Linked DNA regions of Homo sapiens: region 1 is linked to region 2. The links come from fine-mapping of genetic effects on gene expression. A gene starts in region 2. The other region holds a variant in brackets. All regions are shown on one strand. Distances are between the middles of the regions.

Region 1 (15,762 bases), 45 kb before region 2:
CTCAGCTGCTGCCAGACTTCTCTGTTCTATCTTTGCAACTTCCTGTGATAATTATTTCAAAATTAAAAGATTTTTTTTTTTAATTTGCGAGGTTGAGGTTGTCACCTCCTGTTTAAGGAGCAGCCTGGAGTTGAGAGCGAGAAGAGTGGGGAAAGAAAGAGGCTCGCCTACTTCTCCTTTTTTTCTCCCCCTTTTTCTTTTCTTTCTTTTTTTTTTTTTTTTTTTTTTTTCTGAGACCAAGTCTCACTCTGTTGTCCAGGCTGGAGTGCAATGGTGCGATCTCAGCTCACTGCAGCCTCCGCCTCCCAGGTTCAAGCAATTCTCCTGCCTTAGCCTTCTGAGTAGCTGGGACTACAGGCGCGTACCACCACGCCTGGCTAATTTTTGTATTTTTAGTAGAGATGGGGTTTTGCCATGCTGGCCAGGCTGGTCTTAAACTCCTGACCTTAGATGATCTGCCCGCCTTGGCCTCCCAAAGTGCTGGGATTACAGGCATGAGCACCACATTCGATCTTTTTTTTTTTCTTTTTTAGTGACTGAGTCTTACTCTGTTGCCCAGGCTGGCATGCAGTGGTGCACTCATAGCTCACTGCAGATTCAAACTCCTGGGCTCAAGTGGTCCTCCTGCTTCAGCCTCTTGAGTAGCTGGGATGACAGGCATGCACTACTGTGCCCAGCTTATTTTTAAACATTTTTTTTTCTACATACAATGTCTGCTGTGTTGCCCAGGCTGGTCTTGAACTCCTAGAAAGCACTTCTCAGCAGTGCGGTGCATCTCTACCCCCGGCCAGTCGCAAGAGCCCAGCCCTGCATGATCACCCACCTGGGGAGGAGGCTCTGGAGTGGCCAGTGCTGGCTGGGAGCTCTTTCATCAAGGAGGATAATGGAGCTGCCTGCCCCAGGCACTGTCCCAGGGACAGGGTGGGAGGCGGGCCAGGGATGGATCAGTCATCTCCGTCAGGAGTGACTCAGGAGGTTGGCAGACCGGGAGGGACAAAGAGACCCGTGTCATGACCATGGCCTGGTGCCTGGGTGTCCTCCCTCCCACACGTGGTGGCCCAGCCCTACTGGCACGTGAGGCCATGAGACCTTCTCACCTTCCTTCCTGCCTGGCCAACCCTCATCTCAGCGTCTGCCCCCATCTCTCTGAGTCACTGTGTCATGTGTTCTGACTCTTCCTCGGCTTGGCATTTCCCAGGGAGGGGGTGCCATCTGCCTTCCCTGTCCCTGAGGGCCTCCCTGGGCCTGAACTCGGCCGGAGTAGATCACTCTTGCGTTCTCCACTGAACCTGCCCCTCCTGCTTTCTTCAACCTCTTAAGGAAGCTGCTGGAGTCACCTTTGACTCTTCAAGTGAGTCTCACCACTTCCTCCTCCAAAATGGGTCCTGACCCCACCCCTCTCCCCATCTCCACTTCCTCTCTCTTGGACAATGGCCAGGGCCTCCCAAGCCCTGTCCCTGCCTCCACTGATAGCCTGTGCTCACTGTCCACGCAGCTGCCAGTGGGCCTCTGAAGCCTCAAGCCTGCCATCACACCCCTCCGAACTCACTTCTCCAGCGGCTTCTCAACGCGCTCTTTGAAAGCCCAAGTCCTGGCTGGGCACAGTGGTTCACACTTGTAATCCCAGCACTTTGGCAGGCAGAGGCAGGCAGATAACTTGAGGTCAGCAGTTCGAGACCAGCCCGGCCAACATGGTGAAACTCCGTGTCTATTAAAAATTAGTTGGGCATGGTGGTGCGTGCCTGTAATCCCAGCTACTTGGGAGGCTGAGGCAGGAGAATCACCTGAACTCGGGAGGCGGAGGTTGTAATGAGCCGAGATCATGCCACTGCACTCTAGCCTTGGTGACAGAGCGAGACTCCATCTCAAAAAAAAAAAAAAAAAAAAAACCTAGGATTAAATTCCATTGCTGGGCGGGATGGCTCACGCCTGTATTCCCAGCACTTTGGGAGGCTGAGGCGGGTGGATCACCTGAGGTCAGAAGTTTAAGAGCAACCTGGTCAACATGGTGAAACCCCGTCTCTACTAAAAATATAAAAATTAGACAGGCGTGGTGGTACATGCTTGTAATCCCAGCTACTCAGGAGGCTGAGGCAGGAAAATTGCTTGAACCCGGGAGGCAGAGGCTGCAGTGAGCTGAGATTGTGCCACTGCACTCCAGCATGGGCAACAGAGTGAGACTCTGCCTCAAAACAAACAAACAAAGAAACAAACAAACAAGCCCCAGTCCTGCCTGTGGCCTACAAGGCCCTGTGTAATCGAGCTTCCTTGGGCAACAGAGCGATACTCTGCCTCAAAACAAACAAACAAAGAAACAAACAAACAAGCCCCAGTCCTGCCTGTGGCCTACAAGGCCCTGTGTAATCGAGCTTCCTTGGGCAACCACTCTGGCTCCATCACTCCACTCAAGCATGCTTCTTTCCTTCTTGTTCCATGAAGGTAACAAGTACATTCTCGCCAGGGGCCTTTGCACTCGATTTTGGCCTTCCCTGGACCCACATTCCCCAGGAACCCACAGAGCTCCCTCCCTTACTTCCTTCTGGTCTCAAGTCAAATGACTTCTCTTTCTGAAATGGCAGCCTGACCCAGCACAGCCTGACCTTGCACCCCTCTGCAGTTCCTTCACTGTCAGATGTGCGGTCATGTGTTTGCTTGTCTTTCTGATCGTTGTCTGTCTCTTCTGCAGAATGTCAGCTCTGGGAGGTCACAGAGTGATTCTTTTTGGGCACTGCTGTGACCCTGGGGCCCAGCATAGGCCTGGCACACAGAGGTGCTCAGTGAGCATGTGTTGAATTCTGGTGGGGTCCAGGAGCTGGGTGGGGAAAGTCTGAGAGAGTGAACTTGAGTTCAGGTCCTACTGGTTTGTTTGTTCGTTTTTTGAGACAGGGTCTCACTCTGTTGCTGAGGCTGGAGTGCAATGGTTCAATCTCGGCTCACTGCAAACTCCATTTCCTGGGCTCAAACTATCCCTCCCACCTCAGCCTCCCGAGTAGGTAGGACTACAGGCGCATGCCACCATACCTGCCTAATTTTTGTATTTTTTGTAGAGACAGGGTCTCGCTATGTTGCTGAGGCTGGTCTCAAACTCCTGGGCTGAAGCCATCCACCAGCCTCAGCCTCCCAAAGTGCTGGGATTACAGGCATGAGCCACCGCACCTGGCTCGGTCCTACACGTTCGCCATGGCTGAGTGCCGGTCCCTCCTAAGGATGGTCTTTGTGTCAAATTCCCTCATTGTTTCCCAAACTTTAGAGGTTTGCCTACAACCTTCAGGAGCCACCTGCAACATGTTTATTTAATACATTTTTAAAATCAGTTCAGTTGATTGATTTCTTTCTTATTTATTTATTTTGACTTAGCCTCATCCGAAGCTGGTGCGGCATTCTGGTTTCCTGTTGTTCCGGTGCATACTAAATGAAGCATACACAGTAGCGTCACAGTGGCTCCCAGGGCCCTCAAGCTGCACTTTGGGCAGCGTGAGTTACTCCCCGATCCCTGGTTATTGACAATGTTTTGCTCCTCTGGGTGAAGTCCTCCCAGGCCAGACCTGCTGGAGCCAGAGTCTGTCGTCAGGGGACAGGTGTGTCAGGGCAGGGCTGGTGAGCATGTATGCAGGGGATCTGGAAGAGGCTTCCCTCCCGGCTGCTGAGAGGCCCCTGTGTATCCCCAGCCCCATCCGATGCCTCTCTGGCCTTGCTTCAGCTCCTGGAATTTTGCTAAACATGTTCCCACTTGGGGCCTTCACACATGTGTGAGTTTCCTTCCATAGGGAAGCCTCCCCTGCCCCCTGTGACCTTAAGTCACACAGCGGTCCCCAACCTTTTTGGCACCAGGGATTGGTTTCATGGAAGACAATTTTTCCATGGGCCTGAGAGTGGGGAGGGAGCTGGGGATGATTCAAGCACATTACATTTATTGTGCACTTTATTTCTATTATTATTACATTGTGATATATAATGAAGTAAGTATACAACTCACCATCATGTAGAATCAGTGGGAGCCCTGAGCTTGTTTCCCTGCAACTAGACGTTCCCATCCGGGGGTGATGGGAGACAGTGACAGTTCATCAGGCACCATCTGTGAGTGTGCAACCTAGATCCTTTGCGTGCACAGTTCACGATAAGAATCGTGCTGCTATGAGAATCTAAAGCCGCTGCTGATCTGACAGGAGGCAGGACTCAGGTGGTCATGCTTGCTCGCTGGCTGCTCGCCTCCTGCTGTGCAGCCCAGTCCCTAACAGGCCACAGACCAGTATCTGGGTGTGCAGTATAGCACTGGGGACCCCTGCTGTAAAAACTCTGAGCTTCTCCTTGGAAGCCGGTGTCACAGTTGCAGTTTGATATTGTGCATGAGATTCTTTCATGTCCTTGTCCCTGCAAGACTGTGAGCTCCGTGAAGAAAGGGCATGCACCCTCCCAGCTTGGACAGGCCCCACAGAGGGTTTCCCTTCCCACAGCCCGGCCCCCCACACGTCTCCTTTCCTCCTGCATGTGGACTTCCCATCCCAGCCAAGCAGCCCCATGTCACCTCCCCTCCCGACCTGGTTTGTTTATTCCTGCCTCTAGGCCTTTATTTTGGTCTCTGTGCTGTGTCCTCTGCCTTCTTCAAAATGCAGGGAGAGACCAGGCACAGGGGCTCATGCCTGTAATCCCAGCACTTTGGGAGGGTGGGTTGGGCGCATCACCTGAGGTCAGGAGTTCGAGACCAGCCTGGCCAACAATGGTGAAACCCCGTCTCTACTAAAAATACAAAAATTAGCTGGGTGTGGTGGCACACGCCTGTAGTCCCAGCTACTTGGGAGGCTGAGGCAGAAGAAGTGCTTGAACCTGGGAAGCAGAGGTTGCAGTGAGCCAAGATCGTGCCACTGCATTCCAGACTGGATGACAGAGTGAGACTCCATCTCAAAAAATAAACAAAAAAAACAAAAAACAAAAAAAAATCAGGGAGAGCTGCCGTCTAGGAAACCCTGCCCTCACTGCCCGCAGCCCACAGCTTAACCTTACTGCTCCTCCAGCACCCGGGCTCTGTGAGCAGCTGTTGGTTCTCACCAAGATGGCCGTGTAGCACAGCGTCAGAGTGTGGCCTCCGAAGCCAGTGGTCGGGGCTCAAATCTGGGCTCCACTGCTAACAATTGGGGACCACAGAACTGATGTAACTTCTCCATGCTTCAGCTGCTTGTTCTCAAACGTGCACGTGCATCAGAATCCACCAAGGACTTCTCAAAACACAGATTCCTGGGCCCCACCTCAGGGTTTTTGATTCCTGAAGTCTAGGGTGGGGGCTGAAAATTTGCCTTTTTAGCAAGTTCCTGGGTGCTGCTGATGCTGCTGCCTAGGGACCACACTTTGAGAACCATTGTCATAGTTATTAGGGAAGGTAAATGAGGTTAATGGAGATTAATTAATGCAAACTGGGTAGAATCATAGAAAGCGTTCAACAACTGTTAGTTATCAATCCCATTTATACCAGACACTCTGGCCCTTTTTAACTTCCTGACAGGTATTATAGAAAAAGTGCATTTGATACAAAAATTAGCCGGGCGTGGTGGCGAGTGCCTGTGATCTCAGCTACTTGGGAGGCTGAGGCAGGAGAATCACTTGAACCCAGGAGGCGGAGGTTGCAGTGAGCTGAGATTGCACCACTGCACTCCAGCCTGGGTGACAGAGACAGACTCCATCAAAAAAAAGAGAGAGAGAGAGAGAGAGGGAGGAAGGGAAAAGAAAAGAAAGAGTGCATTTGAATCAGAAGCATCAACCCCATGGCCTGGACACACCGTTTCCGAGCTCTGGGACCCTGGGAAAATCACCTAACTTCTCTAAGTCTCAGTGTTCTCATCGTCACAGAGCTGTCCTAGGAGACCCTTCTCAGGACAGCCTGAGCCTCTAGAAAGGGCTCAGTATACAGCTGGTGCTTAATTAATGTTTCTGGAACTGAATGTAGTGATGTATAAAGGCTGACGCTGCAAATTGCAGCATGAATGTGAGAGATGGTGGTGAAACCAACACGGGCTGGTGAGACCTAGATCTGTGGCTCGCACTCCAAGCTGCAGGGACCAGGAGGTAATCTCAGTGCAGGAAGCCGGCCAGGTGTGGGACAATAGGGAGTGGTGGGGACTGCGGCCAGTGCACAGGACCCTCCCTTTCAGCAAGTCATGTCCACGTACAAGTGCAAGCCTGGTGCTGTCAGCTGATCTGACTGCGGCAAAAACCAGCATGAGGATTTTTATGTGAAATCATCCATAAGTCAAACCAGACCCAGCTCGCAGCTACCAGCTCAGAGTGGGAGCAACTTAGTGGCCACTGGCCCTGGGTTCAAGGCTAAAATCCCTGGGCCCTTGCCTGCATACCAGGCTCAGCCGAGGGCAAGGAGAAATTCTGTCATCGTTCTGTAGACGGTGGGATGGCAGGCTGCCCAAAGGCGGGTCAGAAAGCATCAGGATCTAGACTGGCATTTGGCTTTGGGGCATTTATTTCATGTCCCTTTTGTACAGGCCCCAGGGCCAGGTGTGGGGGCAGGAGACCAGGCAGGAAGTAGCAATAAATAACACGGACAGACAGAGCTCCCCTCCAGACAGATGAGGGTAAAGGAGGTTAGAGAGGAGCCGTAATGAGGGCGTGGGGGTGCTGGCAGGGAGGGGCAGCTGGGAAGGAGGGGGAGGTCAGGCCCCCAGGACCTCACTGTCACCTGCCTCACTCCCCTCCTGCCCCAGCCCCCGATACTTTTGGGAGGAAGGGAGCCCACAGCCAGTGGGGGCCAGCGAGGGTCCTGAGGGGGGTCAGCCACGCAGGCTGCCCCCAGCTCCTTCACTTGACCCGGATTTCAGCATACTCAGCTAGCTCCTCCGTCAGCGTGTAGCTGTCCTTGGTGGGCCGTTTCCCCAGGTCCGAGTGAGAATAGCTCAGGTCCAGCTCTGGGGGCTCACCCCGAAGGCCCAGCAGCCTCCTCTCAGATCCCAGGCGCCTCTCGCTCTAAGAGGGGAAACCGCCCATTAGCAGGGTCCTGCTCCCTGCCTTTTCCCAATGCAGAGGACAGAGCGTTTGCACCCTCAGAGCTCCTGAGTTCAGTCCCAAATAAATCCCTGCGAGAACCTCCTTTCTCAAGGACCGCAGGCCCAGCGAGCCCTGCGGTCACCAGGTCCCACTCTGGAGCTTCTGCCAGTGTTAATCATTGCTGAACTTGAAATTTGCCTACAAATTCAGTTTCTCCAGGAAGCTGCTTCTTCTTCTTCTTTTTCTTTGAGACCCAGGCTGGATTGCAATGGCTCGATCTTTGCTCACTGCAGCCTCCACTTCCTGGGTTCCAGCAATTCTCCTGCCTCAGCCTCCCAAGTAGCTGGGATTACAGGCACCTGCCAACACGCCTGGCTAATTTTTTGTATTTTTAGTAGAGACAGGGTTTCACCATGTTGGCCAGGCTGGTCTCAAACTCCTGACCTCAAGTGATCCATCCGCCTCAGATTCCCAAAGTTGTGGGATTACAGGTGTGAGCCACTGCCCCCGTCCAGGAAGCTTTCAACATAGGAGTTTTGAGGGCACACAATGTAACCCCTAATACCTTTTTGGGTGAAAACCACCTAGTCAGGACCCCATCTTTCCAAATTCCTGGAAATACCTGGTTTGGTACGTGCCCCCCCATGGGTCCTGCATGGGTCCGCCCTCAATCTGGGAGGTCCTGCAGGTGACATGTGGGTTCCCCCCACGCTTCCCACCCCTCCCTCCACCCCCTAGCCACAGGAATTTGGACACACAGGACGGTGGCCACAGACAGAAGGGAGCTGCAACAGGACAGACTAGACAAGGCCAGCACTGCCGGGCAGGCCCGGACATCACCAGAGACCACCTTGACGCCTGACAGGGACACACGGACATGCACGCCAACCCCAGGGCCCAAGGAGGGCCCAGAGGAGGGCACACTGAGGCCCCCGGAACCTACCTCCTGGGGCACTCAGTGAGATTCCAGGGTAGAAACCTCTTTGGACTATTGGAGAAGGAAATGCAGTCACAGACACAGGCAGGGAGGGGAGGGGGCCCTTAGGCCCCACGTCCCATCGCCCCCTACACAGCTTCGGCCTGGGCACCTCCTCCCCAGCCTCCAGGTCCAACCCAGCCCTGGAATGTCCTTCCTCTCCTCCTGTGAGAGGCCGCTCCCACTCCCCTGCCCCTTGGCCTCACAGGCCTTTCCCAGGCCTTCAGTGTCCCTGGCATCCAGGTTCCCAGGCCAGCCTGGAGCCTGGTCCTTACCTCGTACTTCTCTGGTGCCCCAGAGATGCGGAAGTCGCTGCTGAACAGGACGGGAGGGTTGTCCCCTGCCGAGAAGCTGGGGCTCTCTGTCACGTTCTTTCTGCAGGGCAGGACTCGTCAGACCTCTCTCTGCCCTCCCTTTCTGCACCCCCACGTGTTTTAGGAGTTTGGCTCAGGGGACCTCAGAGTTCTCCCACCCATCTCTAAGATGTGGCAAGCAGCCCTTTCAGAACCACCAGCCTCTCCTACCCACACAGCCCATCCTTCCCACCTCTGTGGCCCCTGCCCGGCTGGGGACGAGCCACCTGGCCCCTGAGCTCTGCCGTTTTTCAGGACCCCCACCTGGATTCTCCAGGTTCCCCTCATAGGCTCTGGGTCTTTCTGCCCCTCTTGCCACCAGGATGTGGAGCAGAGGGGTTAATTTATTTCTCAGGACAGCTGATGTGTGTGTGCCACAAGAAAGAAACACGGCTGCAGCTGAGTTGGGCCAGGTGGGTATGGTTTGGGGCTGGAGAGGCTTTCTGTCTGTCTGTCTGTCTGTTTGTTTGTTTTTAGAGACAGGGTCTCTCTTTGTCACCTAGGCTGGAGTACAGTGGTGAAATCATAGCTCACTACAGCCTCAACCTCCCAGGCTCAAGCGATCTTCCCTCCTCAGCCTCCCGAGTAGCTGGGACAACAGGCACGTGCCACTAGTAGCTAATTTTTTTGTTTTTTTGTAGATGGGGTCTCCCTATGTTGCCCAGGCTGGCCTCTAATTCCTGAGCTCAAGAATCGTTCCACCTCAGCCTCCCAAGTAGCTGGGACTACAGTGTGTGCCACCATGCCTGGCTAATTAAAAAAAAATTTTTTTTAGAGATGTGGTCTTGCTATGTTGCCCAGGCTGGTGTCAGATTCCTGGCCTCAAGCAATCCTTCCTCCTTGGCCTCCTAAAGTGCGGGATAACAGGCGTGAGTCAACGCGCCCGGCCAAGGCCTATTTTTTTTTTGCCCCAGATGTGTGTAATCTTTGGGGCTTCTGGCGTCAAGTGGACCTGCTGCTGTGGCTGCAGTGGGGTACCTGGGCTTTCCCCACCACACTGGAGTGTGTAGGGGAGAGTTCCTAGAGATAGGGAGGCTGTCAAAATAGAATGTGGGCAAACAGGTCTCAAATGATGTGTGTAAAGGGCTCAGCCCAGGCCCTGGTGTGCCCCTGACCAGCAGGGGCTGGAATTAACAGGAACCCTCTCTCCTCTGTCCAGCTGAACATTCCCAGAACAGAATCTGCCTTCTCTACACTTATGGTGCTGCCTTCCCCCACCCACTCTGGGCCTCCATCTCCCACCAGGTCCCCTTTTTGGAGACTCCCATCCCCAGATCAGCCCCAGCTGGCACTCACTTCCTGCGTGTCTGGGTAATGTAGCAGACGATGGCAATCAGGATGGCAAAGGCGACCACGGCGCCCACAGGCCCGATCTTGGCCCACATCAGTCGATCTGAGGACAGAAAAGACCCAGGCGCCCTTAGGGCTATGGGTGGTGGTGACGACACCTGAGAACTTTGGAGACATGCTGGGATGACAGTCAATGTAGTCACACAGCCGGGGCATCCTTGCACTGACTGATTGGCACGGAGCCTCCTCGTGCCAGGGCAATCCCTTTCATGCTAGAGGGCCCTGGGGAGGGGCTCATGCCTCAAAGGTCCTAGCAAACTCGGGGCAAACTCAGGGCGGCTTCTCCTCTCCAACCGGAAAGGGAGAATTTGACCTTTCTGTCAATCTGCATAGCCCATGCTCTGTGGCTGTTGGTCAGCCTTGGGAGCTTGGATCTAAGACGTGCCCGCTCCCTCCTGTGGCTCCCACCCCAAGTCCACGCCACTCACGGGCTCCCTGGAAGGGCAGCTCCAGGCTCTTGGCGCCATAGAGGTTCCTCGCGGTGCAGATGACGCGGGGCGGGGCCTGGGCCTGCCCCCGCAGCGTGAGGATGCTGGTGAGCACGAGGCCGCTGCGCTCCGAGTACACGAACTCCCGCTCGCTCTCGTTCACGGTCACATTGCGCGATGGCAGCTCAAAGGCCACGGACGGCTCCGGGTTGGACTTCACCACGCACAGGCACTGCACCGTGTCTCGGGCTGCCGCGCAGTGGGACTCCAGGAGGAGCACAGGGGCGACTGCAGGGGCAAAATCAGGTCTGAGGGTGGCCCGGAGCCAACGCGAGGCCCGGCCCCGGAGACTCCTTGGCTCAAGGCAAGGCCAGTGTGGCCAAGGATGGGGGCGGTAGCTTCCTGTAGGGCCCTCCAATTTCCCCTCCTTTTTTCTCTGTCCTGACTGAGAGCGCCTTGACCTCACTACGACCCCGCCGGCTGCCTGTTTTCACTGCAAGCTTCACTAACCCACGCCTGGGGCCTTGAACATTCCCAGGCACTGATAAAGGTGTTTAGGTTGTTGCTCAAAACACTGAAAGAGGCCGGGCATGGTGGCTCACTGCTGTAATCCTAGCACTTTGCGAGGCCGAAGAGTGAGTGGATCACTTGAGGTCAGGAGTACGAGAGGTTACAGAATGAGACGCTGTCTCAAAAAAACCCCAAACAACAACAACAACAAAAATGAAAGAATGAAAGAAACCAGCCCCAGCCCTGGGCCAAATTCCTTAAACCCTCATGTAAACCCATACCCTGACCCTCACGGACGTGTCTGGGTAGACCCTCCCTTTCTCTCGCCGTAGCACTGTGCAAGTTCCCCTCCCAAATGCTTTGGACTGATGATCACCTGGTGGTTTAGTGCCTCTCTCTTTGGAATCCCAAGTGGCCTCATTTCGGGGTGGTTTGGGGTGCTCTCTTGGGGCAATTCTTCTGGTGCCACTTTTGAGGCGACTCTAGCCTCAGCTTCAGCCTGGACAGAGCACTATGTCACAGGGACGGGCCGTTTCTCCTGGGCCCTGGCTCTTACACTCTCTCTAACCTCATTCACCTTGTAATACATAAATCAGATCATGGCACTCTCTGCTCAAAACCCTCCTTCTGTTGCTCCGTGGTTCACCTAAAATACAAATCCTTTATTTTTTATCGTTTAGAGACAGGGTCTGGCCCTGTCGCCCAGGCTGAAGTGCAGTGGCAGTACTATAGCTCATTTGCACTCTTGGCCTCTAGTGATCCTCCCGCCTCAGCCTCCCAAAGTGCTGGGATTACAGGCATAAGCCACTGCGCCCAGCCACATTTGACCATTTTTGACATGCAGAAAAAATTTCACATAGTTCAATGTAATGTATACAGCAAAAAGTACGAATATTCACCCTAAATGAAATCAGTATAGATTACAAACAGCCTTGTGTTCTTTAGGCGAGATTTTGCTGTCAAATCAGGGTGGTGCCAAATTTGCAAAAAGCCTTTTGATTTTAAAGCTTTATGTTCAGAATTGCAGAGGACGGTAAATCTGTCATACTCATGATAGTTACTGGAGGGTTTTTGTTTGTTTTTGTAGAGACAGGGTCTTGCTATGTTCCCCATGCTGGTCTTGAACTCCTGAGCTCAAGCAATCCTCCTGCCTTGGCCTCCCAAAGTGCTGGGATTATAAGGCGCAAGCCACTGTGCCCAGCCCAAAATACAAAGTCTTTCATCTACAAGGCCCCTCAGGCCCTGCCTGACCACACACTCTCTCCTTCTCTCCCCCTGGCTTAGTCCTTTCCAGCCACACCGGTTCCTTGCTGTGTCTGAAAATCGTGGAGCTTTCTCCCACTCCAGGGTCTGT[A/G]CGTTTCTCCCTCAACTTGGAACACTTCCATCAGTTGCCTGTGGAACGCCCTCCCTCGCTCCAAACTGGCCTCTACCCATGCGGCGTCTCCTTCTCTGACCACCCAGGGAAGCTGCACCTCGCTCCACGTATCATTCACTCCCTGCCTCACTCAGTTCTCCTCCCCAGCACTCACCCTCCCTGCATCACACACTTACATAAGGGGCCTCCTGTTTCCATCAAGACAGGGGCTTGCTCCTTCTCCACTCTGGGCCCCACACGTAGAAGGGAGGAACCATGGAACTCTCCCAGCCCCCGGCCTCCCCAGACCCTTGGGGCTCACACAGGCTTAGACTATCCCCTCCTTTCTGGCTTCCAGGCTGTGCTCCTTCCTTTCAGTCTGCGCTGCAGATGCCCCCCACTTCCTCCCCTAAAGCCGCCTTGAACCCCGGCCCTTCCTCACCCATGAGATTCCCTCCTGCCACTAGCACCAAACACCACCCTCCACCCAAAGTCACTTGGTTGAGCTTTGCTTTGCTGCCACTGGATTACAAAAATAGTACTGGTAGGTTTTTTCTTTCATTTTCCAAAACAGGAAATTATTATTATTATTATTGTTATTACTATGATTTTTGAGACGGAGTCTCTCTGTCGCCCAGGCTGGAGTGCAGTGGCACGATCTCTGCTCACTGCAACCTCTGCCTCCCAGGTTCAAGTGATTGTCCTGCCTCAGCCTCTTGAGTAGCTGGGACTACACGTGCGTGCCACCATGCCTGGCTAATTTTTGTACCAAAATACGCAATTGTATTACAGCACAGAATGCTGCTTTTTAAACTGTGTTCTCTTTCTTGGCCTGAGAGTCCAGCACCCTCCTTGGCTTGCTCTAGACTGAGCACTGGTTCTCAGTGAGTTCTCACCAAAACCCACTTACACACAGGCAAGAGACCCTTGGCTCACCTACCCCACCTATTTTCAATTGCTAGCAAAAAGAATGTGCCGGTAACGGTGGTGGACCTGGGAGTCACACGGGCACACGGATTCACGGCAGGAATGGGAACCTCTGTGCAAACATCTCTAAGTCTACTGAATAAAAAGTCCTGTTCGGGCAGAGCTGCAATATGCTTGCTATAGCGTTAACCAGCTAACACGCCACGGAGTACATTAATAACAGCGAACCTGAACCGACAGACATAAAACTTTTTCAAAGCACTTCCACTCAAGACAGCCCCACTGGTGCTCTGGTGACAAAGTGTTCGACCTGGATGTCGGCGGAACGCCGACACCCTGCCGGTGCACGTGCTTAGTATCTTTTCAGACAACCTGTGAAGCTGCGGAAACTGTTATGGGACTCTAGACAAACCTGTAAGACAAAGGTACAAAGAATGAGGAGTTTGTGGTGGGATGGATTTGGCTTGAATCCCAGCTCTGCCATCTACTGGCTGGGTGAGGCCACTCAGGCTCCTGGGCCTCTAGGATGGAGTTCTCATCTGTGCAAACCAGGGGGTTACAGTCAGTAACTCACAAGGGGCTACGGGACTCCGAAGATAGGCGCGCAAGTGTGTTGTAAACACTTAACATCCCAGCCGGGTGCAGTGGCTCACACCTGTCATTCCAGCACTTTGGGAGGCCAAGGCAGGAGGATCACTTGAGCCCAGGAGTTTGAGACCAGCCTGGGCAACAGAGCAAGACCCCATCTCTACAAAAAATTAAAACATTAACTGGGCATGGTGATGTGTGCCTGTAGTCCCAGCTACTCAGGAGGCTGAAGTGTGAGAATCAGTTGAGCCCAGGAGGTTGAGGCTGCAGTGAGCGATGATCAAACCACTGCATTCCAGCCTGGGCAACAGAGCAAGACCCTGTCTCAAAAAAATAAAAAATTAAAATTAAAAATACGTAACATCCCACCCAAGTACTCATGGGTGGATAGACAGAACCATTCCCGCAGAGAGGTCACATGAGCAAAACCTCAGCAGCAAAACACACAACAAATATTTAACCTGGAGTCCAAAGGAAAAATCAGTGAGAAAGATGATGACATCCAATATCCACAGAGTATGTAGCACTATGAACACTCAGTATTGTTCTCTTAGTTCTTCTTTTTTGTGGGGGAGTGGGGGGGTGGGACAGTCTTGCTCTGTCATCCAGGCTGGAGTGTGGGGGTGGGACAGTCTTGCTCTGTCATCCAGGCTGGAGTGGGGGGATGGGACAGTCTTGCTCTGTCATCCAGGCTGGAGTAGGGGGGTGGGACAGTCTTGCTCTGTCATCCAGGCTGGAGTGGGGGGATGGGACAGTCTTGCTCTGTCATCCAGGCTGGAGTGGGGGGGTGGGACAGTCTTGCTCTGTCATCCAGGCTGGAGTGGGGGGCTGGGACAGTCTTGCTCTGTCATCCAGGCTGGAGTGCACTGGCTCCATCTCAGCTCACTGCAACCTCCACCCCCCGGGCTCAAGCGATTCTCCTGCCTCAGCCTCCTGAGTAGCTGGAACTGCAGGTGTGCGCCATCACGCCTGGCTAATTTTTGTATTTTTAGTAGAGATGGGGTTTTGTCAGGTTGGTCAGGCTGGTCTCGAACTCCTGGCCTCAAGTGATCCAACTGTCTCAGCCTCCCAAAGTGCTGGGACTACAGGTGTGGGCCACCACGCCCAGCCTAATTCTCTTAGTTCTCACAGCCATCTTTGTGGTAAGATACTGTTATGAACCCTTGCTAAGGGTTGCAAAGCTGAAGTCACTCGCCTGAGCTCAGGCAGGAGGATGGGGACAGAGCTGGGATTCTAGCCCAGGTCTGTTCAGCCCTGTTGGGACTGGATGCCAGTCAAACTTCTGTTTCCTTGTATTAAACTGGGTTGAAGAATGGTACCCTCCCCTCAATCACATGGTTGTAAGAACAAAATAGGTCAATGCGTACAACGTACTCAAGCTAGTTCCCTAGACATCTCAGGCACTCGGTAAGGTTGCACACTTCCTGCATGCCCCGTGCCGTTCAGGGCTCTGGGGTTGGCAGGTAAGACAGAAGGCCCTGCTCAAGGGTCACCACCACTGTCAGTGAACATTGGAGACCTGGTGCCAGGGAACATTGACTGTGTGGAGAGGGAGGGGGCCTGAGGGTCGCACTCTCCAAGGGCAAGCACTTTGACACAGGCCTGGGTGAAGAGTAGGGAGCTGGCAGGTGGGGCAGGGGACAGGGCCACTGCTCCCCTCAAGTCTAGCAGGTGAGGCCTGCACACTCCACATCTGCCTGCGTGTTCGTTTTCAAGAGAAGCCGGATTGAGTCCTAGAGTGCTAAGAGCTGTGAGGGAGGTGAGGCAGCCAGAGGTTTAACAGCTGGGGCAGACAGGAGTCTGGAATTATCGGGCTCGGACCCACTTTTATAGCTGCCTGGCCTCAGGGAATTCCGCCCTTGAGTTTTCTCCTTGGTAAAGGGGATAATTATAACACACCCCTGTTTCACAGGGTGACCCTAGAATTGAAAATGAGCCAGATAGGCTGGGCATGGTGGCTCACACCTGTAATCCCAGCACTTTGGGAGGCCGAGGCGGGTGGATCACTTGAGACTAGGAGTTGGAGAACAGCCTGGGCAACATGGAGAAACCCCGTCTCTACTAAAAATAAAAAATTAGCTGGGCATGGTGACGCATGCCTGTAATCCCAGCTAGTTGGGAGGCTGAGGCAGGAGAATCGCTTGAATCTGGGAGGCAGAGGTTGCAGTGAGCCAAGATCGTGCCACTGCACTCTGGCCTGGGTGACAGAGCGAGACTCAGTCTCAAAAAAAAAATAATAATAATAATAAAAATAAGAACTGAACCAGAAAACAGCTGTAGAGGATTCAA
Region 2 (15,762 bases):
AGTGAACTGGCAACTCTAAATGTTGTTAAGCAAAGAGAAAGGTTAAGAATCATCTCAATCCCTGCTGTGAAACATTAATCCTGTAAAATAAAGATTTTAGTAGAAAATTGGAAAAAAAAAAAAAAAAAGAATTACCTTAAAAAGCTGGGGTTGGGGTGTGCCAGGGAAGCTAAAGCATGAAACCTAGCAAATTGAATCCAAAGTGAGTAGAAGGGGCCGGGTGCAGTGGCTCACTCCTGTAATCCCAGCACTTTGGGAGGCTGAGGCAGGTGGATAACCTGAGGCCAGGAGTTCGAGACCAGCCTGGCCAACATGGTGAAACCCCGTCTCTACCAAAAATACAAAAACTAGCTAGGTGTGGCAGCGGGCACCTGTAGTCCCAGCTACTTGGGAGACTGAGGCAGGAGAATCACTTGAACCGGGGAGGCAGAGGTTGTAGTAAGCTGAGATTGCGCCACTGTGACAGAGCGAGATTCCATCTCAAAACAAAACAACAAACAAACAAAAAACCAAGTGAGTAGAAGCATGAATTAGTAACATTAAGAGTAGAAATCAATGAAACGGAAAAAGCAATCTAATCTGGCACCTAAAAATCAGATTTCACATAAGTCTCGATTTCTAGCTTCTCAGAGTTTCTGGCAACAGTGGCCCTAGATTCTGACAGGGCAGCAAGGGGAAGGCACTGGGCAAGGGCCACCCTTCAGGCAGCGCACACATGCCCCAGATCACTGGGGGCCCCCCACAACCTTTCCTATCTTTTTCTGACACAAGGTCTGGGTCTGTTGCTCAGGCTGGAGGGTAATCTCAGCTCACTGCAACCTCTGTCTCCCGGACTCAAGCCATCTTCCCACCACAGGTTCCCAAGTAGCTGGGACTGTTACAGGCATGTACCACCAGGCCTGGCTAATTTTTAATTTTTTTGGTAGAGACAGGGTTTTGTCACATTGCCTAGGATGGTCTCAAACTCCTGGGCTCAAGTGATCCGTCCGTCTTGGCCAAAATGTAATCCCAAAAGTGCTGGGATTCCGGGCGGGAGCCACCACACCCAGCCACACACCCCTTCCTGAGATGCCAAGTGCACCTCCCTCCCTCAGGCCCCTGCAGGCATTTGAGTCTGTGACTCTGGGATAAGCTCCTGCAGTACCAAGAAGTGGTGGGAAGGAGGGAAAAAGAAGTGAGAGAAGCGGATCTGAAATCACCACAGAAGAGAAACTTGGGGTTTGTGGCCATAAGGGAAGAAGAGGGCAGAGTTGAAAGCGGCTCTGGTCTTAGTTTCTGGCTTGGGCAGCTGTGACAGGGGTAGCTTTTGCTGCTCTGCAAAGAAGAAGGTTGCATGAAAGCCTTTGGAGACGGGAGATGGCACATTCTCTTTTGGGCGAGTTGAGTTTGAGGCATTACAGGGATGTCCAGAGACAGAAATCTCGAATAGGTAGTTCAAAACGTGGGGCTGGAGTTGCAGTGAAAGGAAGGGAATGGATGGAAACACAGTTCCTTGCATTACCAGGAGCCAGGTGGTGGGCGAAGCCTGGGAGGACATCAAGGAACAGTCCTCAACTTTTTGTGAGTCACACACTCTTCTGCAGCAAAGAAAAAAGAGGAACACCTACAAGGGGGAACAGAGTTTGGGGGATACTGACCAAGAGCTTCCGAGCCCATCGCTGGGCCTCACAAGTCATACACCTGAGGCCGACGGGAGGGGCCGGACCTTATGAAACACCAGCAAGACTGGGTGTGGCAGCTCAGGCCTGTAGCCGAGGCCGGAGGACTGCCTGAGGCCAGAAGTTCAAGACGAGCCTGGGCAGCATAGCAAGACCTCCACTCTACAGATAAAAAAAAATTACCCCATGTGATGACGCCTGCCTGTGGTCCCAGCCACTCAGAAGCCTGAGGTGTGAGGATCGCTTGAGCCTGGGAGGTCAAGGCTGCAGTGAGCTGTGATTGTGCCACTGTACTCCAGCCTGGGTGACAGAGTGAGACCCCCTTCTCAAAAAAAAAGAAACACTCGCAGCCAAAGCAGTTTCTCAAGCTTGTCCACTATGACAAATCACCTGAAGAGCTGATGGAAAACACAGATTCCCCGGCACCCCCATCTACTCACTTGGAACTGGGACAGCCCTGGAAATTTCACTGTTAACAGTGGGGTAGGAAAGGCAAAGATCACAGGAGAATCAGAGAGGATGGAGGAGAAAGGAAGATTCCAGAAAGGAACAGAGGGAAACAGGCAGCATCAGATGCTTGGAGCCCAGACAGCAAAGGAGGCCAGTGGATGTGGCAATGGGGTCACCACGGGTGACCGGAAGTGGAGCTGTTTTGGTAGAGCCATGAGCCAGATGGCTGAGGGTACTGGGAGGATGAGCAGATTGGGGCAGATGCTCTGCAAGTCAGGAAAGCGGAGACAGGACGGAGCTGGAGAAGTGGGCAGGTGATGAAGACTGCTTCACAGGGTGAGAAAGTTTCAAGGCTGCCTGGAGTCAGATTAACTAAGGGAGAGGCGGGGGTGAGAGTGGGGTGGGAGGGTTCTGAGTCCTCTCTTCGCCTTACTGTGTGGCCACCAAGACTCACTGCATCCCCACCAGGTGCCCGGGGCGGCTGTGCTTCCACCATTTCACAGAGGGAAGACAGGTACGGAGATTAAGAACCACCCTGACGCCCCACCACAGGTAAGTCGTGGGGCTGGGGCTGCTCTGGGGGCCCCTCAAACTCACTGCATCTCAAAACCAAGCTCAGATGCACCCCTTCCCTTCCAAGCATGGAGGGGAGTTCAGCACGAAACCCTTATTCTCCAGCCTTGGAGTCCTCCCCACATTTCCCCCAACCCCTGCCCTGTCTCAGGCCTGACAGTCGTATGGTCTCCTACCTCCCAGCCCCTTCCCACCACTCTTGCCAACAGCCTCCACAACCCAAACCCCTCTGCTGGCTTCTCATCACCCTGGAATAAAACCACAGGAGCCCAGACAGCCACACTGGGGACTTCTTCCAAGGTCCTCCACCATCTGGCCTGGGCAGCCCCCTCCACTGCGCCAACTTCCTCTTTCCTTTCCTGAATTCTGCTCTTCTGCAGACACACCATGGCGGCCCTGGCTCAGGGCCTGGCCTGTGTTCTAGCTCTTCCCTCTGCCCGGGACTCTCCTGAGGTTCTCAACAGGCCCCTTCCCTCAGGTCGCTTCAGGGATCTGCTTCAATGTCACCTCTCGAAGAGCCCTTCAGAGCACACTACCATGCCGCCATCACCCGCCACCTTCTTCCCCAGCTTTCCTCTCCTGCCTGTGACTGCCTGCACTGCCTGATGCGGCTGTGTGACTCCCATCTCTCCCACCAGAACGCGCACAGAGAGCTGAGACCTTGTCTGTCCTATCATCTGCTGCATTGCCATATCTGAGGACGCAAAAGGGGGGCTGGTCGTAGTATGCACGCGCTGAATGAACGCCTGAACTCAGGGAGGAGCTGCTCAGAACACAACTACCTGGGCCACAGACCCCAGTCCCATCACCACCTTTAGGACTCAGCATTCAGCCCCTCACTCGGGCATTCGAGGCCTTCCCGATCTTCCCTCCTGAGGCATTCTAAATGGAACTTCTCCCACAACCAAACCAGCACCCCACAAAGTAACCTGACCCACACTCCCCTCTCCCTAGGGAAGCGTCACCCCAGCCCACCCCCCATCAATGTCCCATGAGACCCATGAGACATAAGCCCTCAGGCCTTTGAGCCTCCCTGACGCTCCAGGCCAGACTCCAGACCTGGCACAGGGCCTGTGCCGCTCAGCCCAGAACCCACGGGCAGTAAATATTTGTTGAATGATGGTTGTTTGGGTGTAAGCACTCTCCTGGCACTTGCACAGTGCTGTGCCCACTGCAGTGGCTACTGACAGGCGGGGCGGGACAGTGCTGAAGGCCAAATGACCTGAGGTGAGACCTGGTGTTTCTGGAAAGGGCAGGATGCTCCGGCCTTAGGTAGCCAGAGGCAGAACTTCATGCAGTTTCTCCCTCAGATGTGCTCCCTGGGGGAACAGACCTACTTCTGGAGGCCAGGCAGGCATGGGAGTGCGGGATGTGAGCATGACAGCTGCCACGTGGAAAGGTCAGCCCACGTGAGCCCGGTCAGCCCCATTTTTCAAGTGGGGCAGGCAATCCGTATGGGAGTGTGAAGTCCACCATCTTAGATGTGGGCCATGAATTCAAGATCACCAGCCGGGTCAACAAATGGCCAGTTCCAATTCACACTCCCTGTCCCTCTACTTCTGACACTGTACTCTCCCCTCGTTGCTCACTTTCTACCTTTACAGCGTCCAGCAAAGCCCTCTGGAGCACTTGTGGCCTGCCCAGGAGTGGCTTCTCTCTCTGTCACTCCACACTCCAGGGCTGGCTGAGCCTGTGAGGGTGGTGGTCAGGGGGACCCGGAGCCACACCTTGTCCTCACCTTCGTTGTGCTGGGCTCTTCTCCTCTCATCTCGGGGTGTTCTGGTTCCATCAATTTTTCTACAAGAGGAGGAAAAAAAAAGGGGGCATGTATTATCGCAGAGCTGTTTGCCCAAGCATCTGCTAAGTATTAGATTTGAAAATTATCTTTGCAAGGTAAATCCATCTGCAAAAACAAAAGACATGATACTTTATGTGCACTAGAGCAGCAGAAACAGGCAAAGAAAAAAAACATTACACCATGTGCCCACTTCATGCTAACTGCCCAGCTTCTACTCCAGAAACCCCTCTTCCTTCCATTTCAACACCAGGCCCTCCAGGTGTCCCCTGCACATACGGAGAGTAAGGGTGTGTCCGGGGGGCGATCGTCCTCTGTGTTCCTGTCTGAAGCACATCCTGGGGCGTCATCATGACGTAGAACTGGCCTGCAGGGAGAGTGGGGGGTTAGTGGCAAGGCAGGGTGAAGTCAGAACTGGCTGGGGGGGCTTCCCTCCCTGCTGGGCCCGTTGCCTCCCCCACCTGCCAATCTGACTTCTACTCCTCACCTCCAGCCTGCAAGCTCTGGTCTGTGGTCTGTACGGACACAGCCGTAGTATCTCCCACACTGGACGCTGGGAAATAGGCAAATCGTGCCTCCCCGCTGACAGCCTCGGCCGCCGGACTGCCACCATTGCTGAAGGGATTTTGGATCACAGCCTGGGGAGTAGGAGGGCAGAGGCTACCCTTAGCTTTCTCTGTTCCTCCATCCCGTCCCCTCATTGCTGTGCTTGGGGTTTACTGCATTCTCTGCAATTAACAGGAGTGGGGACTCCTTCTGCGTGTAGCATTCTGTCCTGTGTTTCAAACAGCCCTGGAACATGGCGGGAGGTCAGCGATCACTTGCTGAGCAAATCCGTTTCGCACTCTAAGAAACTTTCCTCTTAAGACACATCATTCCCATTTTGCGGGAAAAAAAAATTCCAAGAGCACTGTCCCCAGGTTTCACGGTGCACAACAGGGATCTGGCCCCATGCAGCCTGAGGCCTGAAGGCAGCATCCGCTGGGCGACACCTGCCCCACCCCCGGGGCTCCCCAAGAGCAGAGCCAGTGTCCCCTCTCCACTCCCTCCCCCCCCCACCCAGGGGTGGCAGGGCACCTACCAGCGGGAAGGGCGCTGCAGGACCTGGGGGCACAGAGGCAGCGGCGGGGCCCGGGCGCTGGGCTGCCCCGTCCACACCCACCTGGGTCACAGCCTGCTGCCCCCCCGCGAAGGCAGCGGTGGACACGACGCTGACGGCGCCAGCTGTGTCGCCCTGGCCGTCCAGCTGACCATCAGTCACCTGGACTACGCGGTATGTCACCTGCAGGGGGCGGCAGAGCGGCGAGGCCGGCGCTGGGGCCAGGTCCGAGCCTTCCCGGCGCGCCCGCCCGCCCGCCCGTTCGCCCTCGCGGCCCGCCGCTCACCTGTCCTCCATTTGTCTCTGTGCGGAACTGGTACTGGATGTTGTGGTCGCCGAACGCCGCCTGCTGGACGCTGGTGATGGCCACCGCTGTCTGCTCCTCCGCTCCTGGGCCGTCCCCGCCTGGGGCCGAGGAGGGTCGGGGCACGGTCAGGGCCGCGCCGAGCGCCCCCAGCCCTCCCCGGGCGCGGCCGGCCCGGCAAGCACTCACCTTCCTGCAGCTCGACGCCCTCCTCCGCCTCGGGTCCCTTGTCGTGGCTGCCAGGGGCACAGGAGGGAGCAGGGTCAGCGCGGCCCGCGCCCGCGCCCCCGCCCCCGCGCCCAGCTGCAGGGCCCCAGTCCCACCCGGCCGCGCCTGAGGCCGGGGGCGCCGCCGAGGCCGGGGGCCGGGGGCGGGAGGCGCCAGGTCCCCCCCGCGCCGGCGGCCTCCATTTTGAGCCGGGCCCGCGGCCGCTCGGGATCATGGCGGCCCCGGCCTGCAGGCCGCGGGGCCGGGGCCGGGGCCGGGGCGCGGGGGCACGGCCGGGCCGGGGATCTTACCTGGCGGCGGCAGCAGCGGTGGCCGAGGCAGCGGGATCCAGACCCGGGTCCAGCATGTCCATGGGGGGGGCGGGGGCGGGGGGGGCGCGGGGCCCGGGGGGGAGGGGAGGGGAGGGGAGGGAGGGAGGGGAGGGGGCGGGCGGCCGGGGGGGCCCCGAGCCCGGCGCTCACGCCGCGCGGCAGGAGGGGACGGAGGAGATACGGGAGCCGCTCGCGCTGATCACGGGGACAAACAGTGGGGTCATGTGAGGAGGAGATGCCGCCGCCGCCGCCGCAGCCGCCGCCGCTCCTGCAGCCGCTGCAGCCGCCGCCGCCTCCGCCTCCGCCCGCCCGCCGGCTCCGGGCGGCCCGAGGCTCCGGGACGCCGCGCGGCCGCCCCCAGCCCACCCAGCTGCCCGCCCGCTGCACGCGGCCCTCAGGCCTCCTTCCCTGAGCAGCCGCCGCCGCCGCGACTTTTTTTTTTGAACACGGCCCGCCCTGGCTGGCCGCCGCCAGTGCCCTGGATCGCCGGCTCGCGCGGCCGCCGCCCGGCTTGGCCCAGTCCGGCGGCGGATCGCTGCTGCAGCCGCCGCCGCTTTCTATTTTTCCCCCTTTTTTTTTTCCTCCTTTACTTGAGCTGCGCGCGCGCGGCGGCGGCGGCGGCGGCGGCGCGAGCCCCGGGGCGGACGCGCGCTGGGGGGAGGCGGCCCGGGGCGCGCGCGCTGGTCTGTCTCCGGGGGCGGGCGGGCGCGCGCGAGCCCGGGGCTCCGCGGGGCGCGAGGTCGCCGCGCGCCGCCCTGGTGAAACGCGGGTCTGGATGGAACGTCGGGGTACCCGGTGCAGGGGCTGGGGTCGTCGGGGGCCAGGTGGGCTGCCCGAGTTTGGAGACAGTAAAGTAGGTCGGTGGGGGGCTGGGGGGGATGGGCTGGAAGGGGAGAGGAGCGCGCGCGCGTCCCGGACGGCCAGCCTGCGGTGCGCGAAGGCGGAGGGCCGGGGCGCATGCGCACGCCTGGGCGGGGCCGGGGCGCGCACGCAGGCGGGCGGCGGCTGCGCGGGGCACGTTCTCCGGCCGGCGGCGCGGGCGCGGGCCGGGCCAGGCTGGGTCTCTTCCTCCCGGCCCCGGACTCCGGTGCCCCCGGGACGCGGCGCTTTACAGACGCATACGGGAGCAGCCCCGGTCCCCCGCCCCGCGCGGCCGAACAAATGGTTCTCTCCAGAGCTTGTGATTATACGTTTTATTAGACTCGGGAGGGGTATGGCAGGGCTTCATCAGTGTTCCTTCAAATTAAAAAAAAAAATACAAAAGCTACGTAGAAAACGTCAGATCAGACGACTAAACTTTCCCGACTCAGGGCCAAGTTCTGCAAGGGAGAAAGAAAGAAGGGTATGAGCCGCGGGGACCGGCTGGGGGCCCAGGGACGGTCTGGACGCCAGGGAGGGCGGCCCTCACCTTCTTGAGCCTGCGCTCTCGGGACGCCTGCGAGTCGGTCTCCGAGTACGGGGGCGGCGCGGGCGGGTAGTAGGCCTCTTCCTCCTCCTCCTTGTGGGGTCTCCTCCTCTCCTCCGACCCCTTCTTCCTCACAGCCTCCTCCAGTAGCCGCCCATCATAGGGGAGGTCCCCGGACCTGGAGCCGTTGTCCCGAGGGTCCCGGGTACGGTGGTGGTGGGACCTGGGGTCGGCAGGAGGGCGCTCCCGAGACCTGAAGTCGTCGTAGTGGGGGTCCCGGGAGCGTGGGAAGTCCCTCGAGTCGTCTTGGTCATAGAGGTCGTCCCGGCTGCGGCTCCGCGGGGGCATGTAGGCCCGGCTTCTCCCACCATTACTCGTGGGAGACCTGCTCCCTGACTCGGCGGTGCTCGGCGGGGTGAGGTCGTCCAGGGCGTCCACGGAGCGGGCCCGGGGCCGCCTGGCCCGCCAGCCCCCGCCTGCCTGCTCCCTGGCGGGCTCCTGGTCCCATCCCCTGGGACTCCGGGGGGAGTGGCCACCCCACTCCTCATCCCGGATCGGGGTGAGGGCAGGGCCCCGGGAAGGCCGAGATCGCCAGTCGTCCTCGTGGAGGGAGGTGACTTCACTCATGGCTGCAGGGAAGGGGGGTGTCACTGACTGCTGGAGGAGCCCGGGGTCCAGGGTTTGCACCAAGAGTCCCTGCGGCAGGTATCAGGGAGACATGTTTCACCCCCCCACCTTAAAAGCCCTCAGACCCCAAGGCTCCTGCTTACCCCGCTCCACACGGCCACTGGGGGGGCCAGGTCGAGAAGGGTCGAAGTTGGCCAGCTCCTTCTCCATGTAGTACAGGACCCGCATGGAGTCGTCCTGCTGGCTGGCCTGAATCCTGTAGCCACTGCGGACTTCTAGGGACAGGGGGGTGGTGGTCGGTTTGGGAGGATGGATCCTGGCCCACCCCTCTCCCTTACAGGCACATCCAACTTCGGGACGATGGATTCTCACCAGAGGCCACACTGCTGTCCGTGTCCCGAAGCAGGGGTACATAGGAGCCTTGGCCACCAGCTGGGGGAGAGTGGCTGTCAGTGGCCGCGCACCAGGAGCAGAGCCCCTCCTCGGCTCCCAAGACACTCTTCCTTCCAGCCCCTGCCCCTCAGTGTCCAGATGCCCAGCACACTCCCACCAGCTGTTCCTGCTTCCCCCGGCCTCACCTGAGCTACTCCTGTCAACGTCTCCAGGGTATCCTCCAGGGTACCCGTTGTAGGCAGGGCCCATGGGAATCATAGCTGGTGGGGGTGGGGTCTTGGCGGGAGACAGGTGGGCATAGGTGCTGGGGGCATAAATGCTGGGAACACCTGAGGTGGCTGCTTTGCCGGCGGCATACACTGTGAGGACACAATCAACAGGAGAAGGGGGATGAGGCAGGAGCCAGGCTGCCCCATACCCATTGGGTTCCGGAGGGACCTGGGCCTGGACCTCCTTCCCAAGCCGTCCTCTCCGCTGTAGAGCTTCCTTGGACATCTGAGTCCCTGTTGGTCCTCATTCCATTTCTGCAGCATCCCTGAGGCTGGGGGACACCAGCTTCACAGAGACCCCACCCCACTTCCTGTGTGATTTTTCAGAGGGTGCACGCAGGCACCCACAGCCCCAGGGTGGCAGAACAATGTTTCATTTAACAGCATGGTAATTCGCCAACATTTGTCAATCAAAAGGTTTTACCTAAACTTCCAACTCCCCAGCTAACTTACTGGAAGAAGTGGCCACCCATGGTCTGTGTGTTTACAGGGCAACAAAGCTGCCCTTTATATAAAGCCCAGATGCTGGGTCCACCACTGTCCCCACAAGCCGAAATCAAGTATCCTCTTTGGCAGCCAAGCCCCTGTTCTAGAAAAAATGAGTCATCTGGGAGACGTGGGTCCTGCCCACCTGGTCACCTTCCAGATTGAGATGCAGTGGCAGGAGCCTCGGGAATTAACTTGCCTGCCCCGGCCAAGCAGCAAAGTGTCTCCTCTAGTGTTTCTAACTCATGGACTGCACCCATTTCTGCCTGCCCCACCAGGCTCTAGGCTTGACAGTTCAAGGTAAGATCCTCCTCCCTTCCTTCCTCCCTAGGGCAAGAGGCTTGCAAAATTCCTGGGCCCTAGGCAAGTGGCTTCCTCCCTGGGACCCCAACAGGAAAATGGAGGAGAGAGATGGGCCCAGAGAGGGTGCCTCACCTCTGATTTGGTTTGGAAGCAGAAGACTAAGTGCACAGCCTAGAGGAAGCCCCTTCATTAGCTCAGGCAGCCTGCAACTTTATCATCAGCAGTGGGACCTGCTGCCTCCTGAAGGGTGGGCGGAGGCTGTGGCAGCAGCAGATGTAACAGGGCCTCTGCCAGGGAGTTAATGGGGCCCTGGGTTGGGGTAACAGGGTCTCCGGATGGAGGAAATGTGGTGTGGGGACAGGGGAATGTGGCATTGGGACCAGCATTTAGTCCTGGCCCTAGCTCTGGTCTTAGTGGGTTCACTGCAAACTTGGTTGCAGCCCATCTGTGAAATGGACCTAACACTTACTCACTGAGCAAAAAGCTGTCAGCTGAACACAACAAGAGGGAGGGGATGGGATGGCCTGCATAAGCCTCCAGGGAGCAGTGGAATTTTTTCAGGGAAGTGATCCTTTGAGGAACCAGGTTGCACACCACTGACTTCAATGACTATAAAATTAGCCAGCGACTTCCTTAATGCTAACAACAACCCATGAAGTCAGGACCTAACAGAAGGAAACAGGACTCAGAGAGGGAAGGCTGCTTCTCTGGGGTCACTCTGTGTGCACCAGGGCTCTGACTGGTGCCCTGTCCCTCAGTCACTACTGAGGCTGATAGTGGCAGTGCCCAGCAGCTGACAGACGTAGAATATTTTATATAGGTTGGGCCCCATGCTCAATGGTGTGCACATGAGCTCGCCAAATCCCCAGATGCACCCAGTGTGGTGAGCTCTGCCATAAGCCCCATTTTATAGGGGATGACACTGAGCCCTAGGGAGGGAAACTGCTCACTGGGCTTCTGAGCAGGAAGGTGTCAAGCAGGCCTCAGCTCTCCACCTGCCCATGCTTGCAAGGATTGCCTGGCACTTCACTGTTCATGTATCTTGGACTGTGTGCACACAGGCTGGTCTACCCAGACACCCTCCTGAAGGAAACCAAGGACTGGCAACAGCTGTGGTCCCCGAGGAGGGGAAACGGGACAGCAGCTAGAGGGATGCTGAAGTGTCCATCAGTGCCACTTAGTGTACACACTGTGGTCTGGTGTCCCAAGGCTGATGGCTGTGACCACGTCAATCAGCTCCTCTGTGAAAGTGTCCCGTTGGGATATTCACAAACATTCACAGAAGAGAGACAGGAGCAAGTCTTTTTCAATTGCACATGTCTGACTCCTCTCATAGAGTTAGGTCCCTCTCTCTCTGTCTTCTGTCTTCTCTTACCTTCCCCTGCTTGGTTTGCTTACTTCCCCTTTAGCTCTCATCTCACATCCAGTCCCAGCTCTCCACAGTAGCCATGCTGGTGTGCTAGATACGACCCTAGACATAGTAGCTGGGTAAAATGTGCAGCATTCCTGTGGGTATGTGTTTTCAAACATTTGCTTAAATTTGGCCAGGCATGGTGGCTCACACCTGTAGTCCTAACACTTTGGGAGGCCAAGGTAGGGGTGCGGGGGAGCGGACTGCCTGAGGTCAGGAGTTCGAGACCAGCCTGGCCAACATGGCAAAACCCCGTCTCTACTAAAAATACAAAAATTAGTCAGGCGTGGTGGCAGGCGCCTATATCCCAGCTACTCGGGAGGCTGAGGCAGGAGAATAGCTTAAACCCGGGGGGCGGAGGTTGCAGTGAGCAGAGATCACGCCACTTTACTCCAGCCTGGGCGACAGAGTGAAACTGTCTCCAAAAAAAAAAAAAAATTTGCTTAAGTTTAAGGCCAGGTGTGGTAGTTCATGCCTGTAATCCCATCACTTTGGGAGCCTGAGGCAGGATCACTTGAGGTCAAGAGTTCAAGACCAGCCTGGGCAACATAGCAAGACCCTGTCTCTACAGAAAATTTTTAAAAATTGGCCAGCATGGTGGCACATGCCTGTAATCCCAGCACTTTGGGGAGGCTGACTTGGGAGGATCACCTGAGGCCAGGAGTTTGAGATCAGGCTGGGCAACATACTGAGACCCCGTCTCTACAAAAAACAAAAATCAAAAAATTAGCTGGGCATGGTGGTGTGTGCCTACAGTCCCAGCTGCTCCAGAGGCTGAGGCGGGAGGACTGCTTGAACCCGGGAGTTTGAGGCTGCAGAGAGCTATGATCGCACTGCACTGCCTGGATGACAGAATGAGACCCTTTCTCTAAAACAAAAAAAATTTTTTTTGCTTAAATCATGTAGTGTTGTAAACCTTGTTTGGTTTCTTAACTTTTTCACTTAACATTTTTTTTTCTTTTTTTTTTGAGACAGAGTCTCACTCTGTCGCCCAGGCTGGAGTGCAGTGGCGTGATCTCAGCTCACTGCAACCTCCACTTCTTGGGTTTAAGCGATTCTCATGCCTCAGTCTCCTGAGTAGCTGGGATTACAGGCGATCACCACCATGCCCAGCTAATTTTTGTATTTTTAGTAGAGAACTGGGTTTTACCATGTTGGCCAGGCTGATCTGGAACTCCTGACCTCAAGTGATCCACTCGTCTTGGCCTCCCAAAGTGCTGGGATTACAGGCGTAATCACTGCGCCTAGCCAAGATTTGGTTTTTTTAGAGGGCTTTACTTCCATGTGACTAGTATCTTGTACTGTTGGACATTTTTACCATGTGTATGGATTATACTTACAAAAGAAAAGAACAACATAAATAAAAATAAACTAAAAGTTGGAGGAAGTAAACGACAATCTAAACAGCAGACCCTCCTCAGCCTACTTTCTCCCCACTGGCTAAATTCACACCCTCCAGACCAACGCCACTGTCCTGGGGGCAGGTGGATGGCCACCTCCTTCCCTTGGATGCAGGATGTTGCCCAAACCAGGGTGGCCATGAGCGGGACACTTACGGGCCTCGGGGCAGCAGCACTTGTCTGGGCAGCAGGGGCACCTGACGTAGCAGCAGCAAGTGTGCGGGCAGCACTGGCACCAGCAGATGCCCAGGAGGAGGAAGATGAGGAAGGCAGCCAGGCATACCACAACCACGAAGAGCCAGTCTGCAGAAAGACAACAGGCCCTGAGCCCGGAGGCCTGGGAGGGAACAGGGCTAACGGCACAGCAGGGGTACATGGTGCGGAGCCAGCACTGAGGTCGGGGACGATTTGCAAAGCTCACCAAGGAACCTGCAGCCCTGGCTGGATTTTTTGTGCCAGAGGCTGGGCACAGCACACTCCCCATTCTACCATCCCGGCCATTCCCCAGTTACGGCCCTCCCCCAGGTGCAAAAAACACAAGGCAGAAAACGAGGCAGCCTGCACAGAGGGAGACAGACTGCAGCCCCCAGACCAAAGAGAGAGCCAGCTGCCCAGACGCCACACCCTCAAGAGCACCGCAGGTGCCAGTCACAGAGCCCTGGCCTGCACCCCAGGCTCTCCTCAGCCCAGCCTAGCCTAGGCCCAGCGCCAGACCACTAGATGCCTCAGAGCCACAGTCAGGCCAGGTTAGTGAGGGGTCCACAGTGAGCAGGGTTTAGTGGGGAAGGGGATACTAACTAGAGTCAGAAGCAGTAGGTGATGTATGGGAGCTCCCGAGAAGCCCAACTCAGGATCCACCCCCCGTACCTTCTATGGGCCCCGCCTGAAAACCAGGTAAGAGCTCAGCCACCCCTGAGGTCCTCCCTGGAGGGACAAAAGAGAAACAGATTATGCTGGCCAGAGCCAGCCCAGGCTGTGCCACCCCCGAAAGCCCAGCTCCAGGCTGGCCAAGTGCAAGGTGTGCCCTGAAGCGGGAAGGGGCTGGGGGCTGAAGCCCTAGTGCATGGCTCCTACCCTCCACCCGCCCACATGTGGGTGCTTATAGGTAAGAAACTCCCATTGCATAATCCACCTGTGTTATGCCACGAGGGCTCCAATACAAATCCCAGGGGGTTCTGAGGGCTCTACCTCAGCTTGGGCACCCTAAGTTTCCCTCATTCATAGGTCTTAGCACCCCAAAGGGCTCCAACCACGGTGATAGGGATGTCCTGTTCCAGCAGGCACAGGGACCTAGGGCCCACGAAATAGGATCTCAGCTCTGTCGCCCAGTCTGGAGTGCAGGGGTGTGATCATGGCTCACTGCAGCTTCAACCTCGTGGGCTCAGGCGATCCTCCCACCTCAGCCTCTGGGGTAAGTAGCTAGGGCTACAGGCATGTGTCACCACACCTGGCTGAAATGGTTTAATTTTACTTTACAAATCTGAACACAAATTAACACAATATACAGGAATAAACTCTTTGTGACAACATAATCACACATTTTTTTTAAAACAGGAAGGGACCCATGAAGGCAAAAATACCCACATATGAAAGTCATATGCAGTCCTGGTTCTGGGACCCACAAGGTCTCCATCTCTACTCATGCACTGTCACATTCACGCATCTCAGAGCCGGTTCTTGTCTTCCCTCGAGTGCCCCTGGAGCTCTGAGCCCCACCAGTGTTGTGTCTGAGGGGCCTCCACAGGCCCAGCTCTGCACCCACGAAGCCCTCCCCAGAGCTCATGCACTTGGCACTATAGGCCCTCGCAACAGGACAGAGGCATGTCAGTCACAGCTCTCAAAGCGTGGTCCTGTCCACAAGGCCAAAAGAAGAAATTTTAGAATAACACTAAGATGTTATTTGCCTTTTTCACTTGTTCTCCCATGAATGTCCAGTAGAGTTTCCCAGGCTCCCTGATGCCATCATCGCCCTGATGCCTAATGGACTATATGCGTGTGTGTGTGTGTGTGTGTGTTTGTGTTTCTTGAGCCAGGGTCTCTGTCACTCATGCTAGAGTGCAGTAGCATAGTCACGGCTCACTGCAGCCTTGACCTCCTGGGTGCAAGCGATACTCCTGCCTCAGCCTCCCAAGAAGCTGGGCTCACAGGTGCATGCCACCATGCCTGGTTAATTTTAAAATTTTTTGTAGAGTCAGGGTCTTGCCATGTTGCCCAGTCTTCCTTGTGTATCTTGGGCTTGAAAAATCTCCCCATTTTAAGGCCGGGCAGTGGCTCATGCCTGTAATCCCAGCACTTTGGGAGGCCCAGGTGGGTGGATCACGAGGTCAGGAGATCGAGACCATCCTGGCTAACATGGTGAAACCCAGTCTCTACTAAAAATACAAAAAAAATTAGCCGGGTGTGGTGGCGGGTGCCTGTAGTCCCAGCTACCTGGGAGGCTGAGGCAGGAGAATGGCGTGAACCCAGGAGGTGAAGCTTGCAGTGAGCCGAGATCGAGCCACTGCACTCCAGCCTGGGCGACAGAACGAGACTCCATCTCAAAAAAAAAAAAAAAAAAGGAAAATCTCCCCATTTTAATTCCTAATATGTTAAGCAACAGATAGACATAAAACCCACAGAAACAAACAAAAGCTCTTGGAGACCCTCGATAATGTTTTAGAGTGTAAATAGACCTGGAGACTAATTTTGGGAACTGCTGATGCAAATGGTGCATTTTACCGAAGAACAGGCAGAGGTTCCTGGGTCACTGGTGCACGTGTTCCATCCCCCACACATGAACTCTGTCTTGCAGCCCAAGTACCCCCCAGTCACGTGCTCATTCACACATGTGAAGATGGCAGTGTACAGCCCAGCGGCATCACTCATGCAGAGCACATGTCATACAAGACTCCATGTGTTGGCTTACAGCAGGGCACCTGGCCGATGGCAACATCCCCCTAACACAAGGAGGCCTCCCAGCCACACGGACACCCCGCCCTGCCCCTGGGTGTCTGGAATCGGCTTCGTTTCAGCTGCACTCAAACTTACACAGTGTGTGTGCCATGCAGCGC

What was found.
Region 1: its variant is fine-mapped to the expression of USF2 in whole blood (TOPMed, PIP above 0.99).

What each region holds. Positions count from the first base shown.
Region 1 is chr19:35,304,494-35,320,255 of GRCh38, reverse strand. MAG (myelin associated glycoprotein) reads right to left here. Exons shown (of 11, transcript NM_002361.4): 8 at 10,095-10,382; 9 at 9,613-9,709; 10 at 8,239-8,338; 11 at 6,449-6,966. The coding sequence ends at 6,802. Among named protein-coding and RNA genes, the nearest start is that of CD22, 17 kb to the left of the region's middle. RefSeq lists enhancers at 1,032-1,211, 7,809-8,308, 8,309-8,810, 14,639-15,526. The variant A/G (reference allele first, on the strand shown) is at 11,959.
Region 2 is chr19:35,259,799-35,275,560 of GRCh38, reverse strand. USF2 (upstream transcription factor 2, c-fos interacting) reads right to left here and starts at 6,599. Exons shown (of 10, transcript NM_003367.4): 1 at 6,398-6,599; 2 at 6,069-6,115; 3 at 5,862-5,980; 4 at 5,558-5,758; 5 at 4,964-5,114; 6 at 4,756-4,843; 7 at 4,420-4,478. The coding sequence starts at 6,459. It overlaps LSR (lipolysis stimulated lipoprotein receptor), which reads right to left. Exons shown (of 10, transcript NM_205834.4): 4 at 13,580-13,636; 5 at 12,869-13,015; 6 at 9,029-9,202; 7 at 8,823-8,882; 8 at 8,594-8,725; 9 at 7,827-8,452; 10 at 7,597-7,737. The coding sequence ends at 7,702. LOC105372380 (a long non-coding RNA gene) reads right to left here. Exons shown (of 2, transcript XR_935939.3): 1 at 15,740-15,762; 2 at 14,159-14,562. RefSeq lists enhancers at 4,504-5,243, 11,172-11,221, 12,739-13,437 and silencers at 5,531-5,850, 5,991-6,180, 7,339-7,488, 7,589-7,658, 7,739-7,818.